Linked DNA regions of Homo sapiens: all the other regions are reported to be linked to region 3. Evidence: microRNA targets listed by miRTarBase, many of them from high-throughput screens and not tested one by one. Region 3 holds a microRNA gene; each other region holds the end of a gene's coding sequence.
What was found. Region 3 holds the annotated microRNA hsa-miR-379-5p (UGGUAGACUAUGGAACGUAGG, at 1,062-1,082, opposite strand). A microRNA usually pairs through its seed, bases 2 to 8, with sites in the 3' UTR of a target mRNA and lowers its output. Matches are read on the target gene's strand: a 7mer-m8 pairs with bases 2 to 8, a 7mer-A1 pairs with bases 2 to 7 and ends in A, and an 8mer does both.

Region 1: miRTarBase lists SLC2A11 as a target of hsa-miR-379-5p. Seed matches in the 3' UTR shown: 7mer-A1 at 1,760-1,766.
Region 2: the mRNA of TDRKH is a reported target of hsa-miR-379-5p. Seed matches in the 3' UTR shown: 7mer-A1 at 2,293-2,299.
Region 4: miRTarBase lists TMBIM6 as a target of hsa-miR-379-5p. Seed matches in the 3' UTR shown: 7mer-A1 at 2,322-2,328.

The regions. Positions count from the first base shown.
Region 1 is chr22:23,884,216-23,887,296 of GRCh38, reverse strand. SLC2A11 (solute carrier family 2 member 11) reads right to left here. Exons shown (of 12, transcript NM_001024939.4): 11 at 2,868-2,995; 12 at 985-2,648. The coding sequence ends at 2,448. Among named protein-coding and RNA genes, the nearest start is that of MIF, 8.6 kb to the left of the region's middle.
Region 2 is chr1:151,771,674-151,774,754 of GRCh38, forward strand. TDRKH (tudor and KH domain containing) reads right to left here. Exons shown (of 13, transcript NM_001083965.2): 12 at 3,037-3,081; 13 at 1,821-2,831. The coding sequence ends at 2,779. Among named protein-coding and RNA genes, the nearest start is that of OAZ3, 6.6 kb to the left of the region's middle.
Region 3 is chr14:101,020,072-101,023,152 of GRCh38, reverse strand. MIR379 (microRNA 379) reads right to left here and starts at 1,087; the gene lies at 1,021-1,087. It overlaps LOC124903407 (mucin-2-like), which reads right to left. Exons shown (of 5, transcript XM_047432049.1): 5 at 1-3,081. The coding sequence ends at 2,349.
Region 4 is chr12:49,762,467-49,765,547 of GRCh38, forward strand. TMBIM6 (transmembrane BAX inhibitor motif containing 6) reads left to right here. Exons shown (of 10, transcript NM_003217.3): 10 at 407-2,468. The coding sequence ends at 430. Among named protein-coding and RNA genes, the nearest start is that of TMBIM6, 22 kb to the left of the region's middle.

The sequences.
Region 1 (3,081 bases), not on the chromosome of region 3:
TGGGAAGCCAAGGTGGGTGGATCACTTGATGTCAGGAGTTTGAAACTTGCCTGGCCAACATGGCAAAATCCCATCTCTACCAAAAATACAAAAATTAGCAGGGCATGGTGGCTCACGCCTGTGGTCCCACCTACTTGGGGGGCTGAGGTGGGAGGATCGCTTGAGTCCAGGAGGCAGAGGTTGCAATGAGCTGAGTTCATTCCACTGCCCTCCAGCCTGGGCGACAGAGAACCCTGTCTCAACAACAACAACAAAAAAAAGTAGACAAAATATTTGAACAAATTATTCATAAAAGAAAACCCACAAATGGCCATACTGAGCACATGAAAAGATGTCAAACATTATTAGTCATTAGGGAAATACCACAATTAAATGACAAGATACCACTACACACTCACTAGAATGGCTAAATTGAAGAGACTGACAATACCAAGTGCTGATGAGGATCTGGAGTATCCAGAACTCATACATTATTAATGAGAATGTGAAACAATATAATCAACCACTTTGGAAAACAATTTTTATACAGTTAAATATACATTTATTATTAAGCCCAGCAATTCATTTACCCAAAAAGCTAGACTGACTGTTTATGTCCTCCCCAGGTTCATACCTTGAAACCTAATCCCTCATATGATGGTACTTGGAGGTAGGGCCTTTGGGCCTCCTCGGAGGTGATTAGGTCATGAGGGCAGAGCCTGCATGAATGGGATTGGTGCCCTTATAAAAGAGACCCCAGAGAGCTCCCTTGCCCCTTCTGCCATGTCTAGGAGAACACAGCAAGAAGACCGCCATCTATGAATCAAGACATGGGCCCTCAACAGACACTGAATCCACTGGCACCTTGATCTTGGACTTCCCAGCCTCCAGAACCATGAAAAATAAATTTCTGTTGTTTATAAGCCACCCAGGCTGTGGTTCTTAGTTATAGCAGCCCGACGGACTAAGACACAAAAGAAATAAAAACATATGTTTAGACAATTATTATTGTAGGAACATTCACAGCAGTTTTATTCATGATGGCCAAGAATTAGAAACAGCCAAAATGTTCACCAACAGGTAGATGGATAAATAAATCATGGTCTAACCACAGAGGGGAATACTACTCAGCAATACAAAGGAGTCTCTCCTAATACGTGCAACAACATTCATGAATCCCAAAAACTTTATCTGGAGCCAAGCCAGACACAAATGTGTACATACAGTACGGAATGACTTCAGATTCTGAAAAAAGGCAAATCTGACCAATTGAGGCAGAAAGCAGGTCAGTGGTTCCCCAGGTCTGGGACTGGGGTGGGTTACTGATAGCAAATGGGCATGTGGGTGCCTTGGGGTAGGGTAAAGGTTCCATCTTGATCACGGTGGTGTTTCCCAAGTGTATACACTCACCAAAACTATACTTAGAACTCAAAACTCGCCAAATATATACTTAAAATGGATGCAGTTGGTTATGTATAAATTATACCTCAATAAAGTTGATTAAAAACATCAATTCCTCAGAAAATTCTTTTCTGACCACTCCCCTCTCAGACGAGGTCGGGCCTCCTGGTATGCATACCCATACCCACTACAACCTGTATTTATTTTTTTTGAAACATGGTCTCTTTCTGTTGTCCAGGCTGGAGTGCAGTGGCTCAATTAGGACTCACTGCAGCCTCGACCTCCCAGGCTCAAGTGATCCTCCCATTTCAGCCTCCTGAGTAGCTGGGACCACAGGCATGTACCACCACACCCAGCTAATTTTTTTTTTTTTTTTTTTTGGTAGAAACAGGATCTTACTATGTGGCCCAGGCTGGTCTCAAACTTCTGGTCTCAAAGCAATCTTCCCATCTTGGCCTCCCAAAGTGCTGGGATTACAGGCATCAGCCACCTCACCTGGCCAACCTGTATTTTTCTTTCACTGCATTTCCTGAGTCTGTAATTATTATTATTATGTTTTAAAGAGATGAAGTCTCCCTCTGTCACCCAGTCTGGCATGCAGTGGTGTGATTGTAGCTTACTGCTACCTTGAACTCTTGGACTCAAGTGATCCTGCTGCCTCAGCCTCCTGAGTAGCTAGAGCTGTTAGCACATACCACCATGCCCAGCTAATGTTTAAAATTTTTTGTAGAGATAGGGGGTCTCACTATGTTACCTAGGCTGGTTTCAAACTCTGGCCTCAATTGATCCTCCCACCTTGGCCTCCCAAAGTGCTGGGATTACAGTCATGAGCTGCCACAACCAGCCTGTAATTATGTTGTTACTGATTTTCTGTCAGTTAATTACCTTTAGCCTGGAATACCACGCTCACCATTGATTGCTAAGCACCTGGAGCCATGTCTGCACACAAAGGGTGCTCAATAAACACTCCTTAAATGAGGAATGCAGGAGGGAGTGAGGACCAGGGCCCTGGCAGGAAGCAGAGGACAGGACAGTAGCTGGCTTTGGCTCTGGCCACCCCTTTGGGACTAGAGTTCTGTTGACTGGATAACCTCCAGGCTCCTCCACGTGGGGCCCTGGGCCCGCCTGGGGAAGTTGAGTCTGTGTAATTCCTTGGAGATCTCTTGGAAGGTCTTGCCTTTGGTCTCAGGAAGGAACAGGCCAGTGTAGATGGCCCCACAGACACAGACACCAAGGAAAGGGACATAGAGGAAGTGGGACAAGGCCTCCTGCGGATTAAAAAAGACCCCAAGACCTGGTGTGTCTCCATCAACCCCTAAACAGAAGGCCCATGACAGGTCGTGAGGAGGCATTTGCCCCCCTCTTTGCTCCCCTAAGACCCCTCCCTTTCAGTCTCAGTCTCCCTGGATGGAAGCCTCCCCCTGGGGTTCTCAGGATGACAGGGACACAGCCTAAGGCAGGGCCCCCAGCGGGAGGGGCGGGCCTACCATGATAAAGGGAAATCCCAGGCCGACCAGGATGAGCATGATCCACATGAGCGCCCCGCAGACCATGCAGGCAGCAGGCCTGGCCATCTGGTCAAACAGCTCTGTGGCCAGGATCCCCGTCACTCCGGCTAGAAGGAGGGGCAGGGACAGGGGGCTGCTGGCCAGGGTTCCCTGCCTGCCTCTCCCCGACCCCAGCCCAGACATGGGAGTGGGA
Region 2 (3,081 bases), not on the chromosome of region 3:
CGGACAGAATAGGTAACATAGAAGAGGGCATTCCAGGCAGCAGGAAAAGTACTGGGTTATACTAACAGAATGACAAAGAACCCATCAGAATGGGCTGTAAACAGGTAAGACTTAAAGGCATATTAAAGAAAAAGACTTTTATACATAGTAACAAACTGCAGGTAAGAATGAGACATTACTCATTTTCCAGGGTAGGAAGTCTTATGAATGATTTATATCAGGGAACCTCTAAAGAGTAAAGGTTCCCTACGGAACTCTGGTAGCACCAGTTCCAGGGCTGAGCATGCTTCAGCGAGTTCATTGCAGGCAACATCTGAAACATCAAATAAATGGAAGCTCCTTAAAGATTCCTCCAAGAGTACCTGAACTACTCACCAGAACTGTTCCTTCACTAGAGCCTTTCTGCTAATTGGGACTGAGATTTTTCTTTTCTTTTTTTGGAGACAGCATCTTGCTGTGTCACACAGGCTGGAGTGGAGTGGTGCAATCTTGGCTCACTCACTGCACCCTCTGCTTCCCTGGGCTCAAGCGATCCTCCCACCTCAGCCTCTCAAGTAGCTAGGACCACAGGCACACACCACCATGCCTGGCTAATTTTTTTGTATTTACGGGTTTCAGCATGGTGCCAGGCTGGTCTCGAACTCCTGAGCTCAAGCAATCTGCCCGCCTCGGCCTCCCAAAGTGTTGGGATTATAGGTGTGAGCCACCGGTGCCTGGCTAATACTGAGATTTTTCTGAGAAAATAAATTTTGAGAATTGTGGTTGTGAGAAAATATAGTTGCCATGTAGTATAGAGGTAGACGTTACTAATCCCTAAATTTAAAAAAAAGACCTGTGTAAGGCATCCTTATGTGCTAGTTTTAAATTTTCTAGTTTATCTTGCTTTATCCTTAAAAAAAATTCACTTGCCATTTTTCTACCATCCACATTACTATACATTTATATTTACTTTCAAGCACCTCAAGTACTTCAAGCCTCGCATTTGAGCCTCACAGTACTGTCAGAAAGATGCTATAAGGAAACACGTTAAAATTTTGCAAAAAGTTTACAGTGGAGATCTACTCCTTAAAGATTCCTCCAAGACTACATGAGCTACTTACCAGAGCTGCTCCTAGAATCCAGGTTTCTAGAATCTTAATCTGGGCCTTTTCTTTTGAATAGTATAGGTGGGGTCTTACTCACACAGCCTAAACCTAAATTGGTTCTGGTTCCTAGTGAATTTTTTTTTATGAGACAAGGTTGTGTGGTGGTGCAATCTGGGTTCACTGCAACCTCCGCTTCCCAGGTTCAAGTGATTCTTGTGCCTCAGCCTCCCAAATAGCTGGGATTACAGGTGCCTGCCACCACGCCCAGCTAATTTTTGTATTTTGTATTTTTGTATTTTTTTGAGACAGAGTCTCTCTCTGTCACCCAGGCTGGAGTGCAGTGGCATGATCTCAGCTCACTGCAACCTCCACCTCCCAGGTTCAAGCAATTCTCCTGCCTCAGCCTCCCACGCAGCTGGGACAACAGGTGCATGCCACCATGCCTGGCTAATTTTTTGTATTTTTAGTAGAGACAGGGTTTCACCATGTTGGCCTCAAGTAATCTGCCTGCCTTAGCCTCCCAAAGCGCTGGGATTACAGGTGTGAGCTACCGTGCCCAGCCAGTGAATGGTTATTTCTGAAGTGACTTTAGAGAAAGAATATGAATGTGTATATGGGAGGGACACTTGTTTCATAGATGTGATCCTTTCTGTGAGGCAGTTGGCAGTTTTCACCAGATTTAGGCTCACAGCCTGCTTCCACCTTGTGATTCAATCAGAATTTGGTTTTAGAAAATTTTCTTGAGAACTTTATTCAGCAAAAAAATCCTCCAAATGATTCAAACAGGACTGTATACTCTTCCTCTCTCTCCACGGGTGTATATGTGTGTATACATATAGATATTATACTAGCAATTTAGAAAATTTCCTGAGCCTCCTGTCTCCTTTCTACTTATATTTTAACTAAAGGTTACAGAGAAATAGCTGGAGCAGTTTCAAAAGCCTGTCTCCAATAACATATCAGCAATTGAGGCTGGGAGGCAGTATTCTCTTCCCACTTCCTGAGGCTTTTAAATATAATTATGCTAATTTTTGCCTTTGCCTCCTGATTCAACTGGAGTCTTTGAGTTCACCACTCAAAAGCTTTCCTTAACCAGAGTCACCTGATAAGGTGAGTCAGAAGTCTGCAGAATCACTTCCAATGACGAAAGCCTGACTGTTTCCCAGCCTCAAAAAGGATACAGCCTAGTAGTAATGTGAATCATGACTGGTAGAGGGGACTGAGCCTGACGTTGAACGGCCTGGAAGTAACACAGCAGTATTCAAACACTGGAGGGTTGGGGAGGGATCCGGAGGTGGAATGGGGGAGACACACTTGTAGCGTGGTAGTCCAATTTTTTTGTAGTCTGATGGGAGGAGAATATTAATTTGGTCCACAGCAAGCCAGACTATATGTGTAATAAAGGAAGGACTGCATGGATCCTTTATCATACACTCCTCTCCTCCATGCACCAATTCCTATGCCAAATCCTGCCAAAGACAGAAATACACAAAAAGCTTGAAAGTGCTCAATCTGAGAGCAAGTTAAGCTGCAGGAAAGCAGCTGCAGAGAAGTATATTAAGACAGGGCATGGGAAAGAGGGAATCAAAGCAAGTGCCCCACTGTCGCCCTCATTACTTTCCTGTTGCTACAGATAGATGATAGCTGCACTCACACAGCAAAGCAGATGGCTGAGCAAACTGAAGCCCAGACTTCAGAGTAAGTAGTCATCTTCAAGGTTATCATCACCAGACATGGAAGCAGCTTCTATTGAAGATAAATAAGAAGGAGAAAGTTAGACACTGCCCTATTCTAGCAGGCAATGCCAGCGAGGCTCAAAAGAAAAATGGACCTCTTGGTACTCAATGACCTGACTAGGAACCAAGCCTTCAATTAACCTCCCTACTCTGGAAAGACTGAATGAGAAAAGTTAATCTCCAAAGATGCTCTAGGGAGGAAATACTGCTTGTACCTGATAAGCTGAGGCAGGACAGGGTATGTGTTATCTCTCCAGAGC
Region 3 (3,081 bases):
TGGCTCATCCCCAAAACTGGCAACTCCTCCAGGAAGCCCTTCGAGGCCGAAAGTCCCACTGAGAAGAAGTGGACGATGATATGGATTTCATCACTCCATAAATACTGATTAAGTGCCTGCTGTGTGCCAGGCGCACTGTGCTGGGTCTGAAGGAGTGGGTAGATGGGAGGGAGGACATGGCACATGGCTAACAGAGCTGGTTAGGGGAGTGGGGAGAAAATCAGAAATACAAAATGGCCCACGTGCAACCAAAGAACATCCATCTAGTTACACTAACCAGGCCAAGGAAACAGTACTGGGCACCTGAGGCCCAGATCTTACCTATTAGTGAGCTCTAGTCTTGGGCATTAAAAAAAAAAAAAAAGTGCCCTAAGGCCATATCTGCCTCAATACCAAGGGCATTTCCAGGAGGTCCTCTTAGGTTGGATTAGATTCTGAGCAGTAACCACCATGCCATCTTCATGAACAAAGCAGGAGTTGTTTTGGTCAACCACCTCCCTAAGGACAGAACCACTGTCTCATTCCCAGACTTGGCACTGCCTCCGGAAAACCCTGAGACTGAATGTAAGATTGATCAGAGGTGGACATTGGTATAAACAGAAAACTTCAACACAGGAAAGCAACTCTTCAATGCCACACAGCGGAATGAAGGATGGACTGGTGGGTCCCCCTGAAGGTAGTATTGGCTCCACGAAGCCCTCCAAAGCTGGCAGGCTACTGGGAAGTGGTAGCCCATCTCACACAAATCCCTCCTTTCGCACAGGCCACATGGCAAATCATCTCTTCCAGAACCACGGCTGAGGCTGGAACCGGTGTCTTGAGCCCAAGTTGCATCACTTCCAGAAAACTCCCCAGAGAGTGCATTTAGTGCCCAGAAGAGCCAGGCCTTGTTGCACAAGTCAGACATCAACCATGAGCCACAGAAATTGCCGTGGAGCAGTGCTGAAGCTAAACCACGTGTTCTCTTCCCTGAAGTTGGCAACACCTCCAGGAAGCCCTCCGAGGATGGATTGGATACTGAGAGTTAGTGGACCATGTTACATAGGTCAGAAATCATAACGCCTACGTTCCATAGTCTACCATCTCTTCAGGAACCACGGAATGGTGCTGACCCCAGAACCAGGGCCTTGCCCCTGAAGTTGGCGTCACTTCCAGAAAGCTTTCTGAGGCTGGATTTGGCATTGGAAGCAGGCACATGGTGAACATAAACAACCCCTCCTCCAATGTGGGGCAGTGGCATTGATGGGGGAAGGGGTGCCTCTACCCTAAGTGGTAATTCCTCCAGGAAGGCCATGTCAACTTGGAAAGACTGCGACAAGGCAAAATGTACAATACTGACCATGCTTTGGCCATTATGTGGTCAACTATCTCTTCATCAAGATAAAGGGCAGTGTTTTGTTCTGCATGGCAAATGGGACACTCCAAGAGCACAGTTCATCATATAAAAGGGGACCCTCAACCTCTAGGTAAAAACTTCCCTAGCTCACCCAAGTTCCGATGGTCCTCGCCATGCTCTAGACCACCTTTGGAGACTCAAACCACAGAGCTGAGTGGGCAGTGCGTTCCTCCAGCTCCTGATTAACCTCTCCACCTCCTTCAGGAGGTCTTCCTTGATTTTCTCCATCCCCTTTCATGGCACAACTATCCCATGTGAATGGAATGCAAAGCAATGATTTGTTAGCCTCCAGGGAAAGGACAAGGGCAGAACCCTCAGCAGCCCTGCAGGACAGCTCGGTTGTCCTCTAAAGTCCTGAACCCCAGTGTAGACGGGGCCCTGCAACTCAGTTGTTGAAGTCCTAACTCCTTAGGAAGTCATTCAAGGCATCATGCTCCCCTGCTCCCTCCAAGTGTGAGCTAGTCTAGTCTAAGAGATTACCCTCCATACCCCGTGCATTGTCCACATGCCTTTGCTGGCACTACTCCTCCACCCAGACCCCGTGTCTGCTTACATCTCTCTGAAGCCCAACCAAATGGCAGTTCTTCCACGAGCCCGACCCCACCTCAGCCAACTCAGGCCTTTGCATCCCTGACCCTCCACAGCACCCTGCCTGCACCTCTCCTCCAGCCCACTCACATTTTCCATGTGGTCACTCGTAGAAATAAACTTGTGTTTACTGAACATCTGTGAGGTGCTGGAGCTAGACCAGTAAATAAGACACAGTCTCTGCCTTCCTGCAGCTGCTAGCGTTGTGGGGAAAACCAACATTAAAGTAGTTATTGCAGAGAATTGGTTTCAAAATGTGAGGAGGCCAAAGTGTTGTGAAGGAGCAGAGAGCATTTAACAAGAGGCTCTCGCCAATCAGGAAAACTTCTCAGAAGTTTAGATTAGAAGATAAAGGATGAGGGGACTAAGCCAAGAAGAGAGAGGACAAGAGTGGACACTGTAGGGTAAAAGCAGAGGACCAGATGGAGCATGGACTGGATGGAGCATGGGTCAGATGAACATGGTCGGGGTGGACAGTGGACTGGATGGAGTATGGACTGGATGCAGTATGAACTGGATGGAGTAGTGGTCGAGGTGGGGCGTGGATTGGATGGAGCGTGGTCTGTGTGGGGCATGAACTGGATGGAACATGGACTGGATGGGGTGTTGACTTGGGGGAGTGTGAACTACATGGGGTGTGGTCTGGATGGAGTAGTGGTCTGGATGGGGTGTGGACTGGATGCAGTGTGACTGGATGGGGTGTGGTCTGGGTGAGGTGTGGTCTGGATGGGGTATGGTCTGGATGGGGCGTGGATGGTCTGGGTGAGGTGTGGTCTGGATGGGGTATGGTCTGTATGGGGCGTGGACTGGATACAGTGTGGTCTGGATGGGGTGTGGACTGGATGGGGTGTGGACTGGATGGGGTGTGGTCTGGGTGAGGTGTGGTCTGGATGGGGTGTGGACTGGATGCAACGTGGACTGAATGGGGTGTGGTCTGGATGGAGTGTAGACTAGAAGGGGTGTGTACTGGATGGGGTGTGTACTGGATGGGGTGTGGTCTGGATGGGGTGTGGACTGGATGGGGTGTGTACTGGACAGGGTGTGGACTGGACGGGGTGTGGACTGGATGGGGTGTAGACAGGATGGAGTGTGGACTG
Region 4 (3,081 bases), not on the chromosome of region 3:
GCTCACTTTGCAGGGTGGAGCACTTCTCGCGCCTAATGGTTGGTTGGTGGTCTTGGCCTCTAGTTTCACTCTTTGAGGATAGAGTGCCATCTGCAGCCTTCACTGTTGGGATCTGAGCTGTAGTGGCTGTGAATAGCCTAGAGTGGTCAGGCAGCCCACCTCGGCACTCCTGGGGTGGGGGTGGGGACAGCTGCTTAACCTTTATTCTTGGTCGGTCTGTCGGCAACTTTGGGAACCACCAGTAGGATGTGGTTAAGATTCAGTTCTTGCTGAGCTAAGGAAGCATTTCTCATTTCTTTTTAATTGTCTGGCTCACTTCTAGTCCCTAACTAAATGCTCACTCAAGAGTTTTAGCTTGAATGTCAAATGTCAAAAAATTAATTGGGTGATTTTTCTCCATTTCTAGGATAAGAAGAAAGAGAAGAAATGAAGTGACCATCCAGCCTTTCCCAATTAGACTTCCTCTCCTTCCACCCCTCATTTCCTTTTTGCACACATTACAGGTGGTGTGTTCTGTGATAATGAAAAGCATCAGAAAAGCTTTTGTACTTTGTGGTTTCCTCTATTTTGAATTTTTTGATCAAAAAACTGATTAGCAGAATATAGTTTGGAGTTTGGCTTCATCTTCCTGGGGTTCCCCTCACTCCCTTTTTTGTCAACCCCATCTGTAGCCTCTTCCTCTACTCAGGCAGTCGACCCGCCACGATGAGAAGTGGGACCAGCAGAGGGCGCCAACTTCAGGAGTCCGCTTTCCCACCAGGCTTCATTCACCCAGTGGACCTGAACTGTTTGGTAGAGCCACCCGGCCCTTCCTTCCTCATTGTTGTTTGGTATGCGCACAGTTCCTGTGGGACTGGGCCGTGAGTTTTCCATTGGAAAGAAGTTCAGTGGTCCCATTGTTAACTCAGCCTCAAATCTCAACTGTCAGGCCCTACAAAGAAAATGGAGAGCCTCTTCTGGTGGATGCTTTGCTCCCTCTGAGCTGCCCATGCTGGTCTGGCAAACACACCTTTCTGCTTTGCCTTCACAAAAGTAATGTGTTCCCTTTCCCACCCCTTGCCTGACCCTCAGGGAGTCAGCCTGCTTCCATCCATGGGTGGGAAGACTTCAGCACAAAGGAAAGACTAATTCTTGTCAGGCATTTTTGAAAAGGCTGATTATGTGTATCAAGGTACAGCATCGTAGGGTTCCCCTAAACTTGCCCTGTTTTTGTTTTTTTAGTTTGTTATCCCCTTACTGAGCGGCCTCTACTAGGTGGCTGTGATTAAATGTCCCAAGCAAGGATAGGGAAGGGGAATGGTTGAGCCTCTGGAGATCATTGTAACCAATCCTGCCAGACCTGTTTGGGGCAGTGGGGAGCAAACCTAGATAAGGACCTGTTTGGGGCAGCAGGGAGCAAAATCTCCTTTAACAACCAAGCAGTTCCTCATTCACATCAACAGAGCGAGGCTGTGATAACTTAGGAGGCAGCAATCCTAATAGTCCTTCAGTGCATTTTAGTCTGTCTCCAACTGGACACCAGTAGGTAGTGTCAAGCCAGAGATTCGGGGCAGTAGATAAATGTTCATTTTACTGATGCACTTTAGTTTTTGGTCTGTTACCTGTTTTCCAGAAATTTGTGGCCTTTTAGGCGGGAGTTAGGCGACCAAACCAGTGAGAGCCCCAATCCCTGCAGTTTTGTGGCTTCAAGTGTGGGTGGACAGTCCTAATGGGGATCTCCAGCTCCTTCCTGTGGGCTGCCACAGACAGCTACCCCCAGAAGGGTCAATGTTGGGAGTGGTTGTGGCTCTGAGCTGCTCTACAGAGCTTCAGTGTGAGAGGATCGAGCCATTGAAAGCTCATTACCAGTAGGACATAATTTTTGGCTCTCCCTATTCACAACCAGTGCACAGTTTGACACAGTGGCCTCAGGTTCACAGTGCACCATGTCACTGTGCTATCCTACGAAATCATTTGTTTCTAAGTTGTGTTTATTCCTGGAGTGACATGCCACCCCGAATGGCTCACTTTCACTGAGGATGCTGTCCTCTGATTTAGCTGCTGCCTCCAGCCTCTGGCTTGAGAACTTACTAAAGGCACTTCCTTCCTGTTAAACCCCTGTTAACTCTCCATAAATTTGGTGATTCTCTGCTAGGCCTAAGATTTTGAGTTAACATCTCTTGAAGCCAAACTCCACCTTCTGTGCTTTTTGCTTGGGATAATGGAGTTTTTCTTTAGAAACAGTGCCAAGAATGACAAGATATTAAAAAAAAAAAAGAAAGAAAAAAAAAAAAACACCTACTTTTAAAGAAAATACCTAACAGATTTTTAATATAGTTATCTCTACCACTTTCTTTTCTAGTTTCTTGATTTTCAGCTCAGGCTGCATTCTAACTCATACTGTGAAGACAAAGGTGTTTTTGATTCAGAAATATATGAAATCTGCATAGTCTTAATTTGTAAAAAATAAAGAAAATTCCTTAACCTTTCCTGGTGTTTGTGTTAAATTCAAGGGTACAGCTGGTCATGGAGCTTGTGATACTGCCAGGGTTTGCTACTGGGGGCTGGGAGTGGGACACGATTGAGTTCGTGTCATAAGTATGAACAGAGACAAAGACCTCCCACTCTGTAGCCCCAGCATGCCACAAATGTTGAGAATTTTCTCTGTCAAATATGTAAGCCAGTTTTTTTTCCAGTCCTCTCCACCCCCTGCCACCTTTGCTATATGTTGTTTGTGGTGATATGTGCAGTTGGTTCAGATGTGCAGCCAAGCTTTGGAGTTTGAGGATGCATAATGGAAAAAAGGCAAATGATACCCACTCATTCTGCAAGTATTTTTGTTCACCCACTGCTGCCCGGCTGTATTCTAAGTGCATTAGTTAATAAAGATGTAAAAGTTGGCCAGGCATGGTGGCTTATGCCTGTAATCCCAGCACTTTGGGAGGCCAAGGTGGGCAGATCTCGAGGTCAGGAGTTCAAGACCAGTCTGGCCAACATGGTGAAACCCCATCTCTACTAAATACACCAAAAAAAAAAAAAAAAAAAAAAAATTAGGCAAAGTGGCAGGCACTTGTAATCCCAGCTACTTGGGAGGCTGAGGCA